Linked DNA regions of Homo sapiens: region 2 is linked to region 1. Evidence: fine-mapped expression QTL. A gene starts in region 1. The other region holds a variant in brackets. All regions are shown on one strand. Distances are between the middles of the regions. Region 1 holds the start of CPA3 (carboxypeptidase A3). Region 2 has its middle 45 kb from the start of CPA3.

Region 1 (2,924 bases):
AAGGTCTTTCTTTTTCACTGTTCCCTGGTCAAAAGTATCTTTAGTCAAAAGCAATGGAGCAAGCATTTGCTTTGGGAGTTCTCAGTGCTGGTGAGCTTGCCCAGTGTCAAGAACATGAAGGCATTTGTAAAACCCTCCTCTTCCTTACCTGCAAGGCTGGAGCCGGAAAATCCATTTGGGGAAATAAAAAAAAGTCCCGAGTTCTACCACACACCCATCAGATAGAGAAGAATGGAATTACTGCTGCTGTATATATAACAGGGGCGTGTCTCCAACCACACTATTTTGATAGTACATAAGCGTGACTCTGAGAAGTTTTATCTACAGTCAGCTATACGTTTGTCAATGTGAAGAGGTGGTTTTCAAAAAGGAAATTCTAATAAGTTAACTGATTAGATAAATTCACTTACTCTTTTAGGTTACCTATGATTCTAGGTAAAGGTGTTATTCTCCCATAATTAACCAAGTTGTGTTCAAGACTAAACATCCCTCCAGAGATGGTTGTGAATGGTCTATAGGTGGCTTTCATTAATTCAACTCTCAAAAGGCATTATTTGGCAATTACAGCATCCAGGCTCTGAAGACAGTGTCCAATTAATAAACATTACAGCATTGATATTTTCTTGCTGTCAGGTAGTTCTCAAGTTGCCTTAGAAATAGGGGTCACCTCTGAGGACAGAGAGAAGAGAAGGGCAAAGAGTTAGGGCAGTGCTTTAGGTCTTTAGTGTTTATTTCTTTACCCAGAGAAGTACAGGAAAAATATAACAAAAATGTTATCATTGTAAAATCTAAATGGTGAACATTTCAATGTTCGCCATAGTACTTACAGCATTTTTAGTACATTTATATTTTGTAATTTAAATTTTTGGGGTTTTTTTTGCCTCCCAAGTAGCTGGGATTAAGGCACCTGCCGCCACGCCCGGCTAATTTTTGTATTTTTTAGTAGAGACAGGGTTTCACCACGTTGGCCAGGCTGGTCTTGAACTCCTGACCTCAGATGATCCACCCGCCGCGGCCTCCCAAACTGCTGGGATTACAGGCGTGAGCCACCGTGCCCAGTCAATTTAAATGTTTTTAATTTCACAACTTACATTCTAGCTTCAAAAATATATTTTACATTATTACGAACCACTCACCAAGATTTTATGGCCAGATACCCAAATTCATCTCAGTCTCCAAGTGCAAATTTTAAAACTAATTTCTTCCATCATTCAATTCAAGCAGAATGGTAGAGTAGTATTTTAGAACAGATAGAACTAGTAAATCCCAGCTCTGTGAACATACTTTCTCTGTTACCTTGGCCAAGTTATTTGCTAAAGGCATTTGCTTCCCATCCTGTATCTGTAAAATGGGTATTTCCTATTGCAAAAGGTAGATAAGTAGCATGTGCTTGGTGGGTTAGTGTTTTTCCCTCTCCAGCTGGAAAAAAAAAACCTGGTGTGGGGGAAGAAGGGGAACAGTTTGTGCAACAGAACCCTAAGAGGAAATCAGCTGCTCATCAAGATAAGGGCTGAGGCATAAAACTGCCAGAGGGTCTCAAGGCAGGCAAAGAAGAACCATGAGGCTCATCCTGCCTGTGGGTTTGATTGCTACCACTCTTGCAATTGCTCCTGTCCGCTTTGACAGGTAAATCTTACTTCCTGTGTTCCAGTCTCTGTGTAGAAGAGAATTAAAGGTTGTTTCCTTACAGTTCACTTTTTTTTTTTCATTTGCCTCCACAAAGGGAGAAGGTGTTCCGCGTGAAGCCCCAGGATGAAAAACAAGCAGACATCATAAAGGACTTGGCCAAAACCAATGAGGTAAGCATTTAGAGGGATATTTTATCTTTTCTTACTGTTCTCTAAAAGATGCTTCTTCTTATTTTACTGTCAATGCCCATGGGACTACAAAAGACTATTGAACATAAGGGGAAAGCAGGAGCTATCTGGATAATTCAGCCAATGGCCAATACTTCACCTGTTCTGGTTTTGGTCTTGGTTTCCAAGACTACCACTTCTGTTTTTCCTCCCAAAAGCTTTTCAAACACCAGCTTTTTCAAGGTAAAACTATGAAATCAGGAGCTGTTCTTGGCCTCCTTATCAGGGCATCTTTCTCTTGCCTACGGGTGCCATTCCCTCTCCATTCTCCCCACTCCGACCCTCATCTCCTCTGGTGCCATAATTTCTCTTGAGTACTAACTGAAAACGTTGAGGCACTGGCTAATATCAAGATGTGACCCTTTCCAAGAGCAGGTACATTTTCAAATAAGACTTTTAAAGTTAGATCAATCCTTTAAAATCCAACAGCCTAATATAATTTTATCATGTATTCAGCTGCTCCTATTTATGTTGCACCAGCCACCTTATATATGCCATTTCAAATTCTCCAGCAGATTCTCAATGTCAGGGTTATAATGTAACTCATTTGAAACAGAAGAGCTAAAGTGCAAAGACAATAAATTAAATGACCAAGATTACACATCAAATTTAAACCCAGAACTGGGTCTGGGATTTATTCCAGTCAAACATACAGTTACCTCTACATCAAATCAATCAAAGGCCCTGCCTATTCTAACTCCCAAATGTTTCTCAAATCCACACATTGCCCTCCATTCCACTGCCACTGCCAAGTTCATGTTCACTCTACCTCTTGCAAGGAGAATTTCCATAGTCCCTTAACTAGCAATCAGGGCTCTAGTCTTGACTCCCACAAAGCCAACTCTGCATTGCAACCTGATTGCTCACTCTAAAACTTGACAATTGCATTCCTCCGTTTGAGGGTCATTACTAAGAAGCAGCCTAGTACGGAAAAAGCATTTTCTTCAAAGTCAAACGCTTACATTCAAATCCAAGCTCTACGCTAGCTCTGTAGCCTTAGGCAACTTACTCAACATCTCTGGGTCTCAATTTCTTCTGCTATAAAATGGGGATAATAGTCATAGCTAC
Region 2 (2,924 bases), 45 kb after region 1:
TTCCCCATAGCACCTAACACATCTTGGACATAGTAAGAATAGGGCTGATTCTGGCAGACTGCTTCAGCAGGGCCTCCTGGGATGGCAACACCTAGGTGGAGTGACCACAGTCCAGAACTGATGTGCAGAAATGTCATCTGGAGTAACAGTCTCTTCCAAATAAGTGCATGTTAACCAGACTCACTAGGGGCTGACTTCCACATGAGACTGCCAAATTATTAATAACTTACTATAGGCTGGCCAGGTGTGGTGGCTCACACCTGTAATCTCAGCACTTTGGGAGGCCGAGGAGGGCGGATCACTTGAGGTCAAGAGTTTGAGACAAGCCTGACCAACATGGTGAAACCCTGTCTCTACTAAAAATACAAAAATTAGCCGAGCATGCTGGTGCTGGCCTGTAATCCCAGCTACTTGGGAGGCTGAGCCAGGAGAAGTGCTGGAACCTGGAAGGCAGAGGTTACAGTGAGCCAAGATCACACCACTGCACTCCAGCCTAGATGACAGAGCGAGACTCGGTCTCAAAAAAAATAAAAAATAGCTTACTATGGGCTGGTAGGGGTTTGGAGTGAATCAGAGAATGTAGAGTAGATACATTTAAGATAGACAGAAAGCATTCAACCCAAGCAGTTGTTAAAGAGGCACAAATGCATATGGGATGGGAAAGCATACGCTGTAAAATCATGCTGTCTCAACTTTATACATTTTGATCTGGCAAGTAACATGGAAAAAGAACAATACCAGCATAGTGCTTTCCAGTGCCATCTTTTTCTCTTCATCACTGTTCTTTGTACTCAAAAACTAAGGTCATCTTTGCTTTGCTTTTCTACCTCAAAGAGCCTAGAAGTGGTGGGTGGGGGACAGTAAATGCCCCCAGGGATGAAGTTAATCCCCCTAGAGGGTCACTGCTTCCAGTGATCACGTCCTAAATACGTATTCACATCTTTGTCTCAGACTGTGCTTTCAGTTGAATTAAGGAGGGAAATGAAGGCAGGGAAAATTATCAAATTAACCAGAAGAGATGAAAAAGAAGCTTGTGTGATTAATTCATGCTGTCATCCAGGCCCTAAGTATCAATTTGTCAGAAACTTTTTACTCACCATAAACAGAAGTTAGTTAATTTGCAGCAACATATGATTCAACTAAGAAAAATAATACAGCAGTTTGTTTGGTCAAATATAGGATGCTAAAGAAACCCCAGTGCTTATACTACCAATGCTGAAGAGATCAAGATCATGACACAGATTACAAAAAACAGTCTATACAGCCGGGCGCAGTGGCTTACTCTTGTAATCCCAGCACTTTGGGAGACCAAGGCAGGCGGATCACAAAGTCAGGAGATGGAGATCATCCTGGCTAACATGGTGAAACCTGGTCTCTACTAAAAATACAAAAAAATTAGCTGGCATGATGGCAGGTGCCTGTAGTCGCAGCTACTCGGGAGGCTGAGGCAGGAGAATGGTGTGAACCCAGGAGGTGGAGCTTGCAGTGAGCCGAGATCATTCCACTGCACTCCAGCC[A/G]GGGCGACAGAGCGAGACTCCGTCAAAATAAATAAATAAATAAATAAAACCAGCCTATACATACAACGCTATGCATAATTGACAATAACAGTGTTGTTATATTTAATTTTTAATAGACTTTATCTTCTAGAGCAATTTTAGGTTCACAGCAAAACTGAACACAAAGCAGAGCTCCCTTCCCCCACAACACACAATCTTATCCATCAACAATATCCTGCACCAGTAGTGTCATTATGACAATCAATAAACCAACATTGACACATCACTATCACCCACAATTTAGATTAGCTTCACTCTGGGTGTTGTACATTCTATGCATTTTATATTTAATTTCAGGTATTTACAAAATGATACCCAAAAATGAGATCTTTCCCCAAAGATATGCTCAAAACTGACAGATGGATTGCCACTGAGCTGACAGAAAATCTTCCAGAATAGATATCCAGGAGCCCTACACAACCACTAATCAGGTTCGTTCTTGGTGCTTTACAGGAACATGTATTAAGATGGGGAAAGAACAAGTTCATTGAGAAGTACAGAATCATTCCCATTGGTTTATCTAAACCATTGCAAATTCTCACATTTTGAATCAACAAACCATTTAAGAATTCTTTGAAGACGGATAAAATCAAGATAACACCAGCAAAACTTTCAGAATAGCTGTTAGCAGCTTGGAAGAAAAGGCAAGAGTTAATGGTGGAGCACTCTTTAAAGAAATAATCCTTCACCAATGCTCCTGGTGCCTCCTGAAGAGTGGGAAAATATAGATACTGATGTCTCTAACTGGAAAAAAAAAAGATTCACAAGAGCAAAATTCTACATGTGAAATAACACATGTATTGTGCTCATATTTGCATTTATATGCATGTAAAATTGTGATATTTACTTTTGAAAACTTGTCTAAGTAGGTCTAAAAGAGCCTTTTAAGTATAGAATTAAAATCTTAAAGATAAAAAATTGTAATCTTATTGGTAGCATTTTATTCTTTCTTGACAGAATTGATGGCATCTTAAATGCAGTAAAATAATACAAATACTTACAAAATTATGGGTTGATCTGTGGGAGCAAAGGTCTGGCTTTCAGAGGTCAGAAGGCTGAAGGAATCACAGCAAACCACCGCTGATGATGTCAGCTCCCTGCAGCACCAAAGCAAATGATTCACAAAGGAATGCCCAGGAGTCAAAGTAAACCTCATGACTACCATTTGCCATTTACCTGCCCACCTGCTGTCAGAGAGTAATACCTTCTCCTAATTTTCCACTTTCAATATCCCAAGTAAGTGTTTCTCATTAACAGAATCTGAACCAGAATTCCATTGGCAAGAGATTCTGGGAAATGTTGTTCCTAGGCGTCTCTCCTAAAATGTAATACTGTCAGCCCCTTTTATATAAAATAGGGGATGGGGGT

Evidence for each region. PIP is the estimated chance that this variant, and not a neighbour inherited with it, causes the effect. A credible set is the group of variants that fine-mapping cannot tell apart.
Region 2: its variant is the best candidate, but not a certain one, in a credible set for the expression of CPA3 in whole blood (INTERVAL, PIP 0.70).

Annotation. Positions count from the first base shown.
Region 1 is chr3:148,863,750-148,866,673 of GRCh38, forward strand. CPA3 (carboxypeptidase A3) reads left to right here and starts at 1,547. Exons shown (of 11, transcript NM_001870.4): 1 at 1,547-1,626; 2 at 1,724-1,799. The coding sequence starts at 1,559.
Region 2 is chr3:148,908,700-148,911,623 of GRCh38, forward strand. No RefSeq gene overlaps it. Among named protein-coding and RNA genes, the nearest start is that of CPA3, 45 kb to the left of the region's middle. The variant A/G (reference allele first, on the strand shown) is at 1,518.